Homo sapiens: one gene and its partner. The protein of the gene in region 2 interacts with the protein of the main gene of each other region in a pairwise test. Each region holds a gene or a part of one and is shown on either strand. Other genes may lie near its edges. The genes, in order: BACH2 and INSYN2A.

Region 1 (7,309 bases), on a different chromosome or scaffold from region 2:
GAGCAGGAGCTGGAAGTCCTGGTCCTGGTCTCCAAGGGGGGTGAGCGAGGGCAGACTTTGATTGGTACCGGGCAGCTGGTGTTGGGCCGCATCCTTCCTGGCAAGTGGTCGGCCATCAGCCCACCGTGGGAGTAGGCCTGCGAGCTGGGGAGGGACTGGCCGGCTCCCACCCACAGACCCTTTGGCACCGGCTCAGAGAGGTCTTTGTCCAAACTGCTCACCCCAGAATAAGAATGCACCGAGGTGCTCACTTGGTCACAAGCGCTGGAGGAGAAGATCACGCTCCTCCGGTCCAGCTCTCCCTCCTGTTTACAGAGAGCCTCCAACCCAGGCCCCCTGAGGGGCGACCCCATGGTGAAGTTGGACACCTCCTTCTGGCCCACGTGGGGCTGTCCATAATTCCCTGTGAAAGGGGTGTAGTCAGTTTTAAGGTCACCCTGAGTGATCCCCTTGTCAAAAGGGCAGGCTGGACTCCTGGCAAAGTGCTGCTGAGATGTACTGGGCAGGCCAGACAGCTCCACACTTTTCGTTATGCTGAACAGAGACCTTAAGCAGGAGGGCGAGGCCACGCTCCTGGATCTCTCCAGGCAGGCGGCCCCAGCTGGGGCCGTGGGGGTAGGGGCAGGGCTGGGCTGTTTCCGGTCCATCTCGACATCCCCCGCTCTGTCCTTGGCGTCAGGCTCATCTCCAGACAGGCAGAGCGTGATGCTCTCTTCCTCATTCTCTTCACTGGGCGGCTCACTTTTAATCTGCCCCCTGGCAAGCCCCGGCTTGAGGCTGTTGCTAGAGTTATCTTCCCGGAATGTGCTTGCAAAACCTGAGGTACTGTGTGATGATGCATTATAGACATTCTTGGTACATGCAAGCTGGTATTTCTTGTATCTGGGGTACTGCGTTAACGCGTCCTTTTCTGAGCTCTCCTTGGTGTCTGTGGGCACGTCAGGCTCGGGCAGCAGGGCTTCTTCCTTCTCTGCTACGGGGATGGCGGCGGCCTCAAAGCTGATGGGCTCTGGAAGCATCTGGTCCCTGGGGCAAGCCATCTTGGCCGTCTCTGAATCCATCGTCTCCTCCTCTTCATCCTCCTCCTCTCCTGCAGAGTTCTCGCAGTCCTCGTGTGGGCGCTGGCACGCAGCATCCTTCCGGCACACAAACAGGCCATCCTCACTGTTCAGGAGCTGGGTCTGCAGGAAGCTGAAGCAGGAGTCCTCCAGGTTGTGCATGCGCAGGAACTCAGCACAGCGGATGACCTCGCGGATGTTTTCTCTGCTGAGTAACAGCTTGGCAGTGTAGGCAAACTGTAACAGCGGCCCAAAGCCCCTGGCTGTGACCTGCAAAACAAACAGGGAAATCGCCAACATTACCATCAGCACTGCTATTGTCCCGAATCCCTCAACTGAAGCAAGATAACCAGACAGTGCTAATGTCCCAGAATAAAGACTGCAAAGGGGCAGTTAATCTTGTAGTACTGGGTCAGCAATGATTCTGCTTCCAATAATTAGTGCCTGTCTCGTGCATGCCACTGTTGTACTCCATCACAGCACAGGCAGAATTGAAAATCACCAGGGTCAAGTGGCTAAACAAGATGACAACGGGTTCAGTGTTTACACTAATGAAATATCCTGGCAAAAATGCACGGTGACAATGGGGAGCCTATTAATTTCCCTCCCAATCAGTCCTGTTGAGAGCCATTCTACACGAGGGGGGAGTGTTGTGACACTTCTTGCAGCTTGCTGGAGCCCAAGAGAGCCTTAACGTTTTCTTGTCAACCACAAAAATGGCAATGTGACCCTGCAAAAAACTAACTCCAGGGAGTTGTAAAAATAGGTTTTCCTCACTTACAATGTTAAAAGAGACATTAAAACAACTCCTGTTTTGCTCATCCATCACAGTTTCTACTTGAGACTTTCGGTCATCATGTCTACCTGATCTTATGATGATGATGATCTCATTATCTCACCAGAGATGACAACAATCAAAAGTGGTGTGCTCAAGATGAAATCAACCCCTGGCCCATAATGAATGGGGGTTGCAGAGTTAAACAAACCGGCTCTCATTTAAATGGTTGAAGCTGCTGAGTGGCACAGGGTATGGGCTATTCCTTCCCTAATTATTAGCAGCAGCTTTGCCATGCAGCTGTCTTTTTTTCCTGGTAAATCTTCAGGGGCTAAGCCTACTGTCATTTGCTGCTTATCTGTTATATTTTACAAAGATTGAAAGTGTGCTATTTATGCACAGCTTGCATATGCACACAAACACGTGTGTGCCCACACGCATGCCTGCTCACACACAATGACTTAGACAATTAAGAATATGTTGCCTAAGGCCAATTGTTTTTTCAGATGGAAATGGATTAAACTTGCTGGTGTTCATCAGGGTAAGCTTCCTTACCCTGCACATAAAACCACACATCCTCTAGGTTCTTGCAAGCACTGCTGACCACACAGGAAGGTGACGCATGTCTACAAATCCTGTACAAATCAAATGAAAGCAGCAATCATGGGGTCCTTGCTAGAGGCTATGGTAGCAGTGATACAAAATTTTAGCGGGGGGAGTGAGTGCACAGCAAGGTGAACTGGTAAACTTTGTAGCTGACTTCTGTGTGTATTAAACTCACCGCAGCATACAGAGCCAAAATTCTTGCAAGGACCTGTAATTGATGTTCAAGATTCAACCTGGACATTCACTCCTTTGGGAGTGCTCTCCAGTCCTCTTAGAGAGAATGAATGACATTGTCCTCTCAGCTCTCATAGCCAGATGAGGAGACGTGCTGGATTCTCCAGGGCAGCACTGATTTCATATCATTGCATTCTTTCCAGTAACGGAAATTTCTTAGACATGTAACTGAACGGGATTTTAATTGTTAATCTTTTTAAAGTACTCAAGTAAGATTCCACATTAAATTTTTCTGTCAGATGATGAGTCCAGAGATATTTGGTTAAAAAAACAAAACAAAAAGCCATGACTGCTAGACCCACATTATAAATTCTATATGGGCAATCAGTGCCATCTCCCTTTTATTATACCTAATTGTGCCTGTTTCTACCATAAGACAGCAAGCTCCTTCAGATCAGGAATGGTTTTGTCTGTCTTTGTAACCTTGCATCTAATCTAACCTGGGGTCTCTCACATGGTAAATACTTGTTAAAAGCTTGTATGTTACCAAATATGTCATGAGTCAAACTGTGTCCTAACATACTACTACTGTGTATGCAAGGTGACAACACAGTATGTTTAGAGAGTGTTGTCTCAAGTTACTTTTGGAGCAAGGCATCATGTAAACCAACTAACTGAACCGATCAACTGATCAAAGGCAGGCAGGCAAGGGTCTTTGTTTGCCCCGTGTCACAGTACCAGTATTAAAAAGGAGGTCTGACCGACACTTTTGTATCCTGCTAAGCTGACATGGTAATAGGTTCAGCAAATGTAGTACTGACAATACATCTGTTTTATGTCCTTTTCTTCCAAGAATCTTTAAAAGAAAGTAAAAAAGCAAGGAAATGTGTATTTATAGGTAACTGAAGAAGATGACAAGAATGTCACATGACCTATTCCTTTACTGCCACATGGCTCCACCACAAAGAAAGAAATGGTGAAATCAATGCAGAGTTGACCCCTGCCCTCGTAATGATCCTATGCTCCTCTGTAATGTGCCAGTTGCCAAAAGGGTGGATAAGACACTTCTTGAGTTTTGGCAAAGGTGCTCACTATATGGGAAATGTAGGAAACTAATTTCAATGCTATTTATACTGTTCACACAGTTTTTCTTTTTTTTTTTATTATTATTATGCTTTAAGTTTTAGGGTACATGTGCATAATGTGCAGGTTACATATGTACACATGTGTCATGCTGGTGTGCTGCACCCATTAACTAGTCATTTAGCATTAGGTATATCTCCTAATGCTATCCCTCCCCCCTCCCCCCACCCCACAACAGTCCCCAGAGTGTTCACACAGTTTTTCTCATACTCCCATCCTTATCACCATTTTTTTTTTTTTTGATGCTGTAGGTCTAAGTAAGTCTTACCACTATCTTCCACTGTGGCCTCTTGTAAAGAAAATTTCTAAAGAAGCCAGGGACATCCATGGGGATCTGTAGATCAGGAAGCAGTACTGGGAGTCACCCTCTGCCACATGGCTGCAAGGAGCTGGAGAAAGCATCTCCGCTCAGGGACGAGCTGATGCTTAAATGTATGAATTGGACCAAGGAGGTGAATGAGCAAAGTCTCCACATCACAAATCAATGGCACTCCTTAGATCACTGAGGCTTAGGAAACTTCCTGAGCTTGAAATGATCGTCATATGGTCATGAAAGAGTCATAGATAAAAAATCTGGTTTGTAAACTGTCACTTAAGCCCAAGGGCAGAGGAAATGGTGTCCTCACCATGAAAGTTCAAGAGCTCATAACTAGCTCTTCTCCCATTCTGGTTTCAGTCCTGCTTTGTCATATTTAAGTCTGCAAGATTTTGCTCAGCTTCTGTGTGTGAGGCTTTGTTTGGTGAGCCAGAATGACCATTTACCAAGTATCTCCTAGTGCCCAGCACTGTGCTCTTGTAACACCCTGCAAGGCAGGCATGACTGCCCTTATTCTGTAGATAAGGAAACTATGAAGCAGGGAGGTGAAGGAGTTTATCCATGGTCAGTGCTAGTCAGTGGAGAGCTAGGATTCCAAACCAAGTCCAGTCTGTTTCTTCTTCTGTGCTAGTGGTGTGAGGGAAGGATATGTGTAGGACTCAGGCCTGTGCTCAAGAGATCTAAGATTTAGCTTTGTAGAAGAGGTACAAATGATGAAAAGTTAACTAAGTAACAATGTAAGCAAGTCAACAATGGAAAAGCCATTGCAAGATTATATGAGTAGTTGTCAACTGAGAAATCCAGACAAGTTCAGGATAGGAGACTACTGAGGCTGAGGGGACTAGCAAGGGGGCCCCTTGAACACTTTTATCAGCACGCCTTGAGTGTCTGCTCTAGGTCAAGGGTTGCTTTGATACGATGGCTACTTTCGGAACTGTCACAAGGGTCCCTCCCAGGAACCCATCTCTGGTCTACTTTCGGCAGTGGTAATCGCTCCAGATACACAAAACAGAAAGCAAGTGCCCATCACACCTGCCAGCAAGTGTTACAACAGGCAGAGGCTTTCTAAATACTGGCTTAGCCTCCATCTTGAGAAGGTGGCACTGTCTACCCATTTTTAGGGACCATTTAAATTCATTCATTATACTCAGAAGGCAAATATTCAGGTACCAGTGAAAAGCTGTATGTTCATGAAACTGTGACCACAAGTCTGCATTGTTACTTACTTTTTGTTCTTAACAAATAAGGCTCTAATAATGGGAAAAAATAAGAGGGGGGTGGGAGGTGGAGAATTACACGCAAAACTAACAACTCATAAAATGGTATTTTAAAAAGTAATGATCATAAAGTTAAAATGGAATGAAGTGGCTATAAATAGAAGAATAGTTCCAACTCACTGATGTTAATGGAGTTGCATCCCTCTGCTCTAAGCAGACCCATCTAGACTAAAATCCACTGGTCAGCAGTGGCCTCAAGGTATGAGAAACAAATGCAAAATATGGTGTTAGGGACAACTTGGGATAACAGTCTTGCATTTTGAATGAAAATATTTTGAATGCCTCATTTCGAAGAACATTTTTTCATTGCACTTAAATATGTAACTACCTGGTCTCATACTGTGCAATACTCATTCTGATACAGATGAGATGGGATCACACATTGGGGCCAGAATACAGTGTGCCATGTGGGGGCGAGACCTCGGAGAAGGCAGAAAGTTAACCCTCCAACCTCCCACAGACTGCTTCCTAGGAGGTGATGACCTCAGCTAGCAGTTGGCACATAGTTGGTTCAACCCTGAAAGAAATAAGGCCAGGGTACCGTGTCCGATGGTGCAAGTCAACATGCTGACAATGTGTTGAAATTTGACCCACTGTAACTATGACCCTTAATCCTTCATTACATTGGATTCTAACATATCATCTCTCTGCTGAAAGGAAGATGGGCTGATGAAAACTCAATTTGTAGAGAAAGTTTGGGCACTGTTTGCAAAGCTGGGGAGCTCAGTGTTTTGGGGAGCTCAGTGTTTTGGGGAGCTCAGTGTTTCATGAGACATCCATTTTGCTGCAGGACAGAGTTTATGAGGATACTTACAACAGTTCCATCTCTGGACTATGATAGGGATGAGGCAGTCAGCCTTCAGGCATTTATTGAAAATAGGGTTTGAGGATTTTTGAGACTTGGAACATCATTCTCTATATAAGCTACATGACTAAGGTGTCTCCAGTTGGTTTTGGCAGTATATACACATGGCTGTAGCATTGAGCCCATCTGCAGAAGGCTGATCAGATGAATCCGGAGGACAGGTGACTGCTCCCTGGGAGAGGGCTGGCACGCTTCTCAAGGTCCCTTAATCACAACTTCACAAAAAAGGGAAACTTACATCTTCAGCAACACCATGTACACTTTCCTGATGAAGCTGAATCTCTTACACACTGCAGGAACCAGGAAGATAAAGGTAATGAACCCCTGCCCAAGGGCTTTTTAAAACGCTAGACCACTGACAACCCCTCTGGGTTGTATTTGCACAGCAAGGCACTTGTCAAATGATGAAAGCAATGCTGGTGACAATTAACTCTCCCTTCCCACTCTCTTACTGCACTGCAACCCACTCTGCAGGATGAAAACTGACTTAGTGATCAGGCATCACTCCTCATCTTAATTTTCTATAATTCATATCCACATTATCACATTCTTCTTCCAAAGCAGCATGCTAGACATTTAGAAAGTATTTGTCAAATTAATTCACCTTACTATTTCAACAAAGCTTCTGGTTATTTTAGTATTAATTTTTATTTTATCTATTTTTACAGACAGGGTCTCCCTATGTTGCCCAGGCTTGTCTTGAACTCCTGGGCTCAAGGGATCCTCCTGCCTCAGCCTCCCAAAGTACTAGAATTACAGGTGTAAGCCACCACATCTGGCCTCGTATTAATTTTATTTATTTATTTACTGACAGGGTCTCATACTGGTTGTCCAGGCTGGAGTGCAGTGGCATGATCTTGCCACTTACTGCAGCCTCAACCTTTGGGGCTCAGGTGATTCTCCCAACTCAGCCTCTTGAATAGCTGGGACTATCGGCATATACCACTATGCCCAGCTAATTTTTGTATTTTTAGTAGAGACGGGGTTTCACTATGTTGCCCAGGTGGTCTCAAACTCCTGGACTCAAGCAATCCGTCTATTTTGACCTCCCAAAGTATTGGGATTACAAGTGTTAGCCATTGTGCCTGGGCAATT
Region 2 (2,971 bases):
AAATGATTATAGAATGAGACAGAACCCTCCCTCTGTCTGCTCTGGGCTGTGCATTGGGCCTTCCTTCCCTTTCTGCATGTGTCAGAAGAGGAATCCCCTTCTTCTCCCTGAAGAACATGCGATGGTAGCAGGAGCCTTGAGTGTCGGTCTGCAGTGCCCTCTCCCTTGCACATGGACTCTGTGGTTGCAGATACTGGGAAAAAGCATTGTGGCCTCTCCTCTCCTAGGCCGTCCAGGTGAGGCAAACACCAGCCCACGTGTGCAGATGGGTTAGTATTAGGCTAGTGTCAGCAGGAGAGGTAGGCGCTCAGCCTATCTCCCACTAGGGAGGGGAAGAAGAAAGGAAGGAGGCGGCTGATCCCTTGAGGCTGGGGATGTGCTCAATGGAAGATCTAGAGAGAAGCTACCTCCCCTGGGCCATGGAGGCAAGATTTACATGCCACAGTGTACTGTGGCAACACTCAATGTATTTAGCCATTTCTTCTGAGGTTAAGAATTAAACCTCATATACCTCCTGCTATGAGCCTGTGTGCATCCTAAAATGCCACCATGTGTTCCGGTGGTGAAACTCCATGCCAGGGTGCATAGGTGGGCAAGCGTCAGTCCCTTCCCTCCCCAAGCCAGGCCAGCTCTGGCTGGTGGGTCAGGCCCAGGCCTTACGATGCTCTTGTCTTCTGCAGACCGGATGAAATGCCTATCGGCCCAAACATTCTTCCTTTATTATTATTTTCTTAGATTACTTTTATGTTCCCCAATTTTTGAGGCCATGAAATAAGTTTAATAGCCACATAAAACATCTTTGATTTTTTTATTTAAAAATTAATAAAGAACTTAACGACAAGTATAATAATTTAATCTCTATATGCAATGCCATGTGTACATCTACATAAGGGAACCCTGTGCGTTTTACCTTGCTTTTGTATCAGCGTTTTTACTTGAATCTTTCCAAGAGAAGAATCACCATCTGTTAGTGACGTGTTGCAATTAAACTATGAAATGATTTTGACAATAGTTTTTCTATTTTGAACACACTTTAATTTTTAGGGATGAATTAATTTATCTTCAGAAGTTCCTTTTTGACTCTGAACATTTTAATTTTATTTTTTTTTGGTCTAGACTGGTGTGAAACAGTGACATTATTTTGTGTACTAGGATGTCCTCTTGTTTAGACAGATTTGTGTTACTAATTAGAAAACTGCTAATACCCTTATTTCAATTTACTGAGATAGTTGGGATTCTTAAAACATAAGGAGAGAGAACTTGTTGGAAACATTTTTATAACTTTAGTTAAAAACAGTATAAAAAACATGAAACCCATTTTTAAATATTTAGTCTACGTGAAACAGTTACACTTCCTTCATGTTACAGGATCAACTTCCTCATTGTTCTTGCACCAAAATATTTCTCAGTTCCTTTTATTGATATTCAGGGATTCGAACTTCATATAGTGTTTCCGCAGAGGATGTGTGTGTGCACATGTGTGTTTTAAATTAAAGCATACAACTGCAGTGTTGTTTGGCCCCCGAAGAATGTTTACACGACATACTCTTCATTTTTTTTTCAAGGCCCGATCTGGTTACTGATCACTAGGTCCTTGTAGAATCAAAACACTTAGAACTAAAACAGATTTGCTGTTGAGTCAGGAGGAAAATACATGGCAAGAAGCAGCTCCAATCTGACAAAAGCAGGTGAGATCCTTTTACCAAGGTTAGCCACTGTGTGTTTGGCATCTAGTCAATGAGGTGTGCATGTCAGCACTCCACTAGATGTGAAACTGCTGGACAGAAACTTCAAGACTAGGTTTTCCTGTATGCTCACAAACTATTCAAAATTTAAGTTGTACAAAAAAAAAAAAAAAGGCAAAGTAAGATCCCTACTTCCTATTGTGAAAATCAAAAAATTGATAGACAAAGTCATTAATAGACTAGGGGATTTGATTTCTATAAAAAGATACTTGCAAAGGTGCAAAGAAATGAGTGAAAAAATAAAGGAACTAAGATTTACATTGCAATGTGTAATCAAGAGAGAACTCTAAGTGTTACTGTTGATTTAAAAAATACCTAAAAACATTTGATTCACAGCTTTCCCCTAAGTATGTTGTTTAGTACAACTTACTAATAGGTTAAATGTAGGCGACATTGTCCCTTGGTAGCAGCTAAACTAAACGCACTGTTTCTCTTTGAGATGGTCAGGGCTTCCACCATTAATACAAAGCATAACGAATTGTACATAACGTCTGGCTGCACTTACCATGGCTAACAGTGTCTCGGAGGATCGATCCACAAAAACACTGTCTGCCATGGCACAGAATGCCTGTGATTTATTGGTGGGTGGATTATCCATCGTGTATCTCTATGTATGTTCTCAGATTCTTGCCAGAATGTATTATTTGGCCTTTGGGTACCAAAAGATTAAAAATGAGATCTAAGAAAACTTAGTGTCCAATAGCTCTGACCCTGTCTACTTGCAGTGATTAAAGGCATATCCTGACTTTGGGGGACTCCTGGCTGCTGGCCATTTGGAAAATGAGCAGTAAACATGTCGTAAGTCTGGAGATGAAGAGGATGCTAAATTTGAGGTGTCGTTGTGACACTGAGATGTGGTCACTTGGCTTAGCGCTATAGCACATGAAGGCAAATATACATATAGTCACATTTTAGAGATTATTCATGGTCTCCGACCACTTGAAAAAATTGTGCTTTCTCCGGAATTTGATGTGCTGAAAATTGCACTCGCCCCCTGCTTATTTGCAAAATGAAACATAAAAATGAAGTCCTTCGCAAACATAAGGCTTGCTTTTTCTTCTCATTATTTAAAAAAAAAATCAAGGCTTGAAAATAATTATGAGTTATAGCTGTGTACAGGGTGACAGCCTGCCATCTCGCAGGTTGATAATGTATTACTTGCAGATCGGGGGTGGGGGAAAATTTTTACTTATCATCTTTGACTACGTAAGTTTCATTTCAGATTT

Evidence for each region.
Region 1: the proteins of INSYN2A (region 2) and BACH2 interact in binary tests that used the Homo sapiens proteins (3 or more experiments, as listed by UniProt).

Annotation. Positions count from the first base shown.
Region 1 is NC_000006.12:89,950,535-89,957,843, forward strand, and holds part of BACH2 (transcription regulator protein BACH2), read right to left. Parts: intron 1,329-7,309; coding exon 1-1,328. UniProt on the Homo sapiens protein: Transcriptional regulator that acts as a repressor or activator. Binds to Maf recognition elements (MARE). Plays an important role in coordinating transcription activation and repression by MAFK.
Region 2 is NC_000010.11:127,134,636-127,137,606, forward strand, and holds the end of INSYN2A (inhibitory synaptic factor 2A), read right to left. Parts: 3' UTR 795-2,971; downstream 1-794. UniProt on the Homo sapiens protein: Component of the protein machinery at the inhibitory synapses, probably acting as a scaffold. Inhibitory synapses dampen neuronal activity through postsynaptic hyperpolarization.